Regions from separate parts of the Homo sapiens genome. Here regions 1 and 3 are each linked to region 2. Evidence: fine-mapped expression QTL. A gene starts in region 2. Each other region holds a variant in brackets. All regions are shown on one strand. Distances are between the middles of the regions.

Region 1 (2,670 bases), 230 kb before region 2:
CAAATAAATTACTCCACATCTCCATTATTCTGCTTAACAGAGATTTCAAACAGCATTCCCTAAAATAAAAACCCTGATGTCTCTCCCCTTTCCCAAGTGCTCCACTCAATTTTCCTTACTTTAGTAAATTTCCACTCCTTATTCCAGTTGCTTACAACAAATACCTTGCTTTATCCCTTATCTGATCTGTCAGGAAATCCCACTGGCTCTACTATCAAATACATCCCGTATCTAACAACTCACCACCTTTATAACACCATCAGCTGTCACTCAGATTGCTACAATAGCCTCCTAACTAGCTTTCTTGTTTTTGCCAATGTCCCCTCAATCTATCATTAATACACTGAGCATAAAAATGTGCATGATTTACCTTATATCTCTGGCCTGGTCTTCTATTCCTCCTATTCTTCCATTTCCCCAAAACTGCATTTCAGTCGCATTGGCCCACTAGCTGTTTTTAAGATATAGCAAAAACACTCATTTCAGGGACTTTGCCCTTTCTCCAGGTACCTGTATTTTTTGGTTGTTTTTGTTTCTATTTTGTTTTTGCTTATCTCCTTTTATCAAATCTCAGTCAAATCTTTTCTGATGTTCCTATTTAAAACTGGACCAGGTAATAGGGGATTAAGATGTCCAATAGGAGTCAGGACTAGCTTGCAGCTCCCACTTGGGACAGACAGAGCAGTGTGTGGAGACTCATATCATGAACTTTTGCTCCCGGAACTACCAAAGAAACATACCAGGAAAGCTGAAAGACTCACAGACCCTTTGAAAGAACTGGATCACGGCTGCAGGCTCCCTGAAAAACTGTGAGTCCGCTTGCTTTCTCAGCGAGGAGGCTTGTGGTATAGGGCAAGTTCTCAGCCCTAGTCATTTAGTCACTGGCTGCCTGGAAATACACTCAGTGCTGTTGGGGGAGCACAGTGAGAGTGACACTGGCCTTTAAGACTGCAGGCTGCGTGGGAGCAGGGTGAGGCCTGTTACTGCTGGCTTTCCTCCACTTCCCCGGAGACCTGTATGACTCAGCAGAGGCAGCCATAATCCTCCTGGAAACGTAATTCCATTGGCCTGGGAACTATACCCCCATATCCCACAGCAGCCACAGCAAGCCCCACCCAAGGAGAGGCTGAGCACAGACAGGCTTATTCCTGCCCCACCTGGTGCTCTTTCTCTACCTCCCCCACCCCTTGGTTGCTGAAA[A/T]CAAAAGGACATAATCTCTTGGGAGCTCTAAGGCCCTGCCCCACTGCCTGTGAAACCTGAATACTTAACCAGATAACCCCAGGGCAAGTTTGCATCTTTCCTATAGTACCACAGCTGGTGCAATCTTGAAAGCACAACCTCCTGGCTGGAGGCCAACCAACAAAAAACCAGCACTCTAAACAAAAACACAACCAAGGGCCCTCACAGAGTCCACTTCACTCCCCTGCTACCTCCACCGGAACAGGTGCTGGCATCCACAGCTGAAACACCTGAAGATGGATCACATCACAGGACTCTTTGCAGACACTCCCCAGTACTAACCTGAAGCCCGGTAGCTCTGCTGGGTGGCTAGACCCAGAAGAGCAAAAGCAACCACTGAAGTTTGGCTATCAGGAAGCCCCGACCCTAGGGAAAGGGAGAGAACATCGAATCAAGGGAACACCACGTGGAACGAAAGAATTGGAACAGCAGCACTTGAACTCCAGATCTTCCCTCTGACATATACAAATACAATGACATAGTATACCCAAATGAGAAAAAAATAGAAAAACAATTCTGGTAATATGACAAAACAAAGTTCTTTAACACCCCCAAAAGATAGCACTAGCTTACCAGCAATGGATCCAAACCAAGAAAAAATTCTCTAAATTGCCAGAAAAAGAATTCAGAAGGTCAGTTATTAAACTAATTAAGGAGGCACCAGAGAAAGGTGAAGTCCAACTTAAAGAAATCAAAAGCATAATACAGGATATGAAAGGAAAAATATTCAGTGAAATACATAGCATAAATAAAAACAATCACAACATCTGGAAATCAAGGACACAGAGAAATGCAAAATGCACTGGAAAGTCTCAACAATAGAATCAAATAAGCAGAAGAGAGAACTTCGGAGCTTGAAGACAAGGCTTTCAAATTAACCCAGTCTGTCAAAGACAATGAAAAAAAAAAAATGAACAAAGCCATCAAGAAGTTTGGGACTATGTTAACCATCCAAACCTAAGAATAGTTGGTGTTCCCAAGGAAAAAGAGAAATCTAAAAGTTTGGAAAACATATTTGAGGGAATAATCGAATAAAACTTCCCAAGCCTCGCTAGAAATCTAGACATCCAAATAAAAGGAGCTCAAAGAACACGTGGAAAATTCATGGCAAACAGATTATCACCTAGGCACATAGTCATCAGGTTATCTAAAGTTGAGACAAAGGAAAGAATCTCAAGAGCTGTGAGGCAAAAGCATCAGGTAACCTACAAAGGAAAACCTATCAGATTAACAGCAGATTTCTAAGAAGAAACCCTACAAGCTAGAAGGGATTGGGGTCCTATTTTTAGCCTCCTGAAACAAGACAATTATCAGCAAGAATTTTGTATCCAGCAAAACTAAGCTTTATAAATGAAGGAAAGATGCAATCTTTTCTAGGCAAACAAATGCTGAGAGAATTCACTACTACCAAGCCAGCACTAAAAGAACTGC
Region 2 (2,670 bases):
GGCTACATTTTGAAAAACAATAACTCATTTGACAAGACAACCTGGTAGTTTACCGGATTGCACTCCCCAGAAGAAGGCAAGGAGGAGGGTGGTGTTGTTTTCTATATCCTTCAAAGATATATTTAATTACCTCATCTTCAAGCATGCAGAGACAATTCAAATAGGGTAGAAGGAGAGGGAAATGGGGGAGTGAAATCAATTCACTGTCTCAGTCAAATCAAGCAAAAGCCCCATGACTACCTGCAACATGAGAGGCAAACATTTACGGAGGTGGGGAGGGATCACCCAAAGAGCTTATACAGATGGACCCTGGCTAGAATGAGGACCTGTGAGGATGCTATTCCTGAGTGACCTTTATTTCACCTCACTGCTCTCCAACATGTGTGCTAAATCTCCTCTAGATGAGTCAAACAACAGGACAATTGGGAAAGAAGTGACATGACATCAAAATATAAGCCCCCCTGGGCTTGCCAAACTCAGCAAGACCTACCTAGAGATCTCACTTCTTCAGTATAATTTTTGGAATGAGTTTCAGGGGCCAAAAGTCTCTTTTTGCCTTACCTACTTTGAAGTCATAGCAAAACAAAAACAGGTGATCCATGTAAGCAGTTGCTAAACATAAAAAAACAAATGCACACACAAGGTTTACTAAATGAATCCACATCCAACTTAGCAAGCATCACGTCAGAGCTAATAATTGGTCATTAATCTCAAAGAATCTATTTCAAAATGTGCAGTCAGAAATTAGCAAGCAGGAGCATATGTTCCACAACTACAGACTCTACGAGTGTATCTTGTAACGCTGCCATTTACCTTCAAGAGAAATTTGCGATTTTCTAAAGAAGAAAGTTGTCAATCACTTACGTACATAGAATTTAGGGTGGGGGATTGGGAGAGAGACCACAATATAGCTCACCAAGAAACAGAAGGGACTCAGAACAATCATGTAAAGGAGAAAAGAAACCAGTTCCAGTCCTCACATGGGCACCGAGACTGTTTCTGCCCTGCCTGCCAGAACACATAATCAGGAGGGGTAGCCTTTCTAAACATTGCCTCTTTCTGTTGTTACATTGTTTCACAAATTCAGACAAGCCTCTAGGTATCATTCTCTTTTTTCTGTGAAGTAAAAATTCCTAAAGACTTCTTCTCCTTAAACCTTTACCATCCCCCTACCCCCCGCCCAGGCCTTCTAAGAGACAACACTTGCCTTCTGCTTTTCCTCCAGCTTCTGGGCAAAATAAAGTGCCTTCCATGGGATGTCTTCCAGACCGTCCTGTAGGATCTCACACCCACCTCTGTGAGCAAACCGAGGGGGGCACCCCATCTACATTGACACGAACACGATTGTAGGGCTTTAATTTTATTTCGTCGACTTCCCTTTGCAGCTTGCCTGTCTCTCCCATGTCTGCCACCCGCAGCAGGAGATTAAAAGAACAGAGGAGGTAGGAGCTCTTGTGAGAACCACGGGAATTTTGGCAGAACCTTTATGGGAACCATATGGCAGCAACTCTGAAGTACATGAAACATTTCTAAGGGAGAAGAACTCTATTATTCCCAAAGAATGTTTCTCATCTGACTCAAGTGCACTGAGCACCCCTGCCAAAGGATGGGAATAATATTTTCTGGAAAGACTGTATGGATGCAGATTATATCTGATCTCAATGTATCTAATAGTAGCAGATCAGCATTATACCCCACAATCTATTAATAAAGGGAAAAGACAATATGTGTGTTTCTGATATTCCCTAGCTATTCATAACCTTCCTATAACACATTTTACTCATCTTTTGCAATGAAGGGACTGGATAAGATAAGTGCCCTTCAGTTTTTTATCTTTGCAGCAGTCTCCTTTGGTCAATGGAGACCTCATTCAGAACTCCAGTACACAGGAACGATCATGATGGATCAGATATTATTGAAGCAAGGGCAGAAGGTCTGGCTGCTCTTTTTTGGCCTCTCCCTCACTTTTTTCTTCTTTTCCTTTCTTTTCTTTTTCTTTTGTTTTTTTTTTTTTTTTTTTTTCAGGTTTCTTTCCCAGACTATTACTCTTTGTTAACTTTAAACAGGTAGAACAAGGAGAGACATCTGTCCCCTCCAGTTCTACCAGAGCCAGATATGCCTTGCTCTTCTGTTCAGAAACACAAGACAGTGAGTTCACACTGCCTTCAATGGGTCCATGACTTTCCAACCAGCCCTGCAGTGTAAAGAGACTCTTCACATAGCCATCCAGTGAGCAGCAGTCAGCTAATGACCAAAAGCAGTACTCCTGGAAAAGAACCCAGAGCACTGCCTCAGGACTGGGCAGTGGAGGAGTCCCAGGTAATGGATGAGATGCAGACAAGCAGAAGGGATGTGAAAGTGGCTGAAGAAGGTTCTTCCAGGCAGGAAAGAGTCCTGGAGATAATTTTTTTCTACCTCAAGCCCTAGAGCTCTATAAACAAATCTAACTTCCTCGCATAGAGGGGTCACAAAAAGAAGTCCCAAAAAAATCATGTGTGGTAGTATTTAGAAACAGAAATAGCAAGAAAAATAGCTGTATAGTGGTTAAATTATGGGTGGTTGAGGCAGAAAATACGCCTGCCTTGAATTCTAACCTTTTAATCAACCACATAGAAAACAGATGTTAAGATTTGGAACAAACAAACAAACCAGCTTGGACTGGAGAAGTGA
Region 3 (2,670 bases), 36 kb before region 2:
TTTGAGTACTCAACTGAGAACCTGTCATAAGGCATCAATTTAAGGGTGCCTGCAGCAGTGTTCAGCTCCAAACAAGGTCAGTAAAAAACGGCAAGTGCACAAGCAAAGAGGTGCCACCTATTCAGGCATAATACTCCGTCCATATCTATTTGGAGACTCTTGAGATGGCTCTGGTGTTTCTGTTTTACAAGTCCTGACCAGCATGTGTAGGACATAATGACATGTCAGTGCGTATCAAGTGTCAGTGTAAAGTATTGGTTTTGAATTTACCCAGGCATCTCATTAAAATGAAAAACACAGTGTAAAATTTCAAATGAACCTAAGCCTCTGTCTGGTTTGCTCATAATTCAGGAAAAGTCATAAACAGAAAGATACTTGTCTCTATCCACAGCCAGGGCCCCAACTAAGTACTGCATTGTGAAATGAGTCATATCCCTGTAAGCAATGATTTGAAATGTGCTATAATTGCTATGCTGCCCATGTCACCCAAGGAGAAAACAAAACATCTAAGTAACATCACTATGCCTTACAAACTGTCAAACGTTCATCGATGATTTCATCTCATACTGGTGATGACCCTTCAGTGGTTTCTTTTACAATAACAGACCTGCCAGCTTGGTCTAAGAGAAGAGGAAACTCACAGAAAGCAGAGCATGGGGCTCATAATTAATTTCATCACTACCATCCGGGCAAAACCCAGAAGCCTATATTTTAATTGGCTTGCTAACATATTTGAAAACAACATTTCTAATGAGATTATTTTTTTCCACATTCAGAAATAATGAGAGAAAAAAGCAACAGTTATATTTTAAAATATCTTAATACTTGGTATTGGGAATTTAGAAAGCTATTATCTATTTAGCATAAGTCAACTTGACATTCTGCTGAAACTAAGATTTCGCTCCGGTTAAAAAGCACTTGGAGGCCCTGGCATGAACAGCTGGATTAACAAAATGGAATAGAGGAAATGTTTGCATTACTTTGCTAGGGCTGCCGTAACGAAAACCCACTAACTTGATAGCTTAAAGAAAAGAAATGTATTGTCTTATAGTTATGGAAGCTAGAAGCTCAAAATCAAGGTGTCATCAGAGTTGACTTTTTCTGAGGACTGGGAGGGGAGAATCCATCCCAGACCGCTGCTCTTTGTTTGTAGATGGTCATCTTCTCTCTGTGTCTTTTCATATCATCTTCCCTCTATGTGTGTCTAGCTCTGTGTCAAATTTCCCCTTTACG[T/A]CTTTATAAAGACACAAGTCATGTTAGATCAGGGCCCACCCTAATGGGTCATTTTAACTTGATTACTTCTGTAAAGACCTTTATCTACAAACAAGGTCACATTCTTAGATACTGGAGGTTGGGACTCCAACGTATCTTTTTTGGGGAGAAACAATTCAACCCATACCAACAGTTAAAATAATCCTTCTGGGAGTGCAAATGAATTGCTTTAATTCCATCCATTTACGTGTTTGCTATCAACTGTCTCGGCTAACAAGATAAAACAAAGACAAATCAGAGCTACATTGTCACAAAGTTTCATTGCTGAGAGGTTGGTTTGGTAATGCCTGTCCAGTTCATTAGAGACAGATATATCAAGAGTAATTTTCTTGCAGACTCCTGCCATTATTGACACAGTAAAACTGACTAGTGAATGTCTACATGCCTATTCATCCTATATCATTTATGACCATTACCATTCACCAAATTTTTAAATTCCAGTAGCATGGAACCCTAGAATTCTACATTTAAATGTATCTATCACTGACATTCTTAGGGATTCTAAGTACTATCTCTAGCAAAATATCTTCTTCTCTAAAGCTGAACAAAAGAATACTGCAATGTGACAAATTAAGATGAATTTTGGCTTTGCATCTGAGAAAGTCTATAGAGACTTAGACTCTCTTGCACTGACCTGGACTCACAGAGAGTTTTATTCTGTGAAGAAGAAAGAATGTTCCCATGATATTACCATCATAGAGAACCAAATAGGCCATTTCCAGCCCCACTGCATCATCTTGACCAAACTCAGAAAATGAACTATCTTCTAAAGAAATAATTCAGTATATATAAAAAGATATTCATCCAAGAATTATTTCTAGTAGCAGAACTTTAAATGTGTACTCTATCATCAATCAGTAAAGATACCATTAACTATGTTATGTTTACTCTATGAATGATTAAAGTGGTAAACACAAAGATTATATAGCATCATCACCATGTGATTCTACAGCAAAATACACAGCTGACAGCTCTGTTCATGCCCACAAAGTTTTCAATCAACTTTTAAGTGCCTTCCTCTTAAATTTAAGGAGAAAACTAGGTGAGATTTAAGGAGGTCAGTAAGCCCCAGGAAAGATGTCCCCAAGAACATGAAATGTATAGAGTATCTGATGTGTTTCAATGCATGAGAGCAGATTGAGACAACTGAGGGAAATATCAATGTTGAATAAGCGATAAGTACAAAGAGAATTAAGAAAACAAATAAGCAAGACAAATAGTAATTCAAAGGAAAAACAAAAAGTTGTGTAAAAAAGGAAAAAAAACATAGAATACTATATGAATAATGTAGTGTTCTGAATTTTGTATCTTGGCAATATATCGTATTTGTACATACAAATCTCCCATATTTTAAAAGCCAAATAATAGCTCCTTAATAAGAACACATTGTAATTCATG

Which allele goes with the higher level. Alleles are on the strand shown, and positions count from the first base shown. SD is a standard deviation of normalised expression in the study named. Not every link is listed here.
For the expression in cerebral cortex of the gene that starts at base 1,454 in region 2, allele T in region 3 goes with a lower level than allele A (moderate effect, 0.43 SD a copy in GTEx).

The links.
Region 1: its variant is fine-mapped to the expression of LINC02607 in nasal epithelium (TOPMed, PIP above 0.99).
Region 3: its variant is fine-mapped to the expression of LINC02607 in cerebral cortex (GTEx, PIP 0.92).

What each region holds. Positions count from the first base shown.
Region 1 is chr1:95,741,273-95,743,942 of GRCh38, reverse strand. All of the region lies in intron 1 of LOC101928219 (a long non-coding RNA gene), which reads right to left. Among named protein-coding and RNA genes, the nearest start is that of LINC02607, 230 kb to the right of the region's middle. RefSeq lists an enhancer at 363-1,562. The variant A/T (reference allele first, on the strand shown) is at 1,201.
Region 2 is chr1:95,508,900-95,511,569 of GRCh38, reverse strand. It overlaps LINC02607 (long intergenic non-protein coding RNA 2607), which reads right to left and starts at 1,454. Exons shown (of 2, transcript NR_110622.1): 1 at 1,208-1,454.
Region 3 is chr1:95,544,984-95,547,653 of GRCh38, reverse strand. No RefSeq gene overlaps it. Among named protein-coding and RNA genes, the nearest start is that of LINC02607, 36 kb to the right of the region's middle. The variant T/A (reference allele first, on the strand shown) is at 1,234.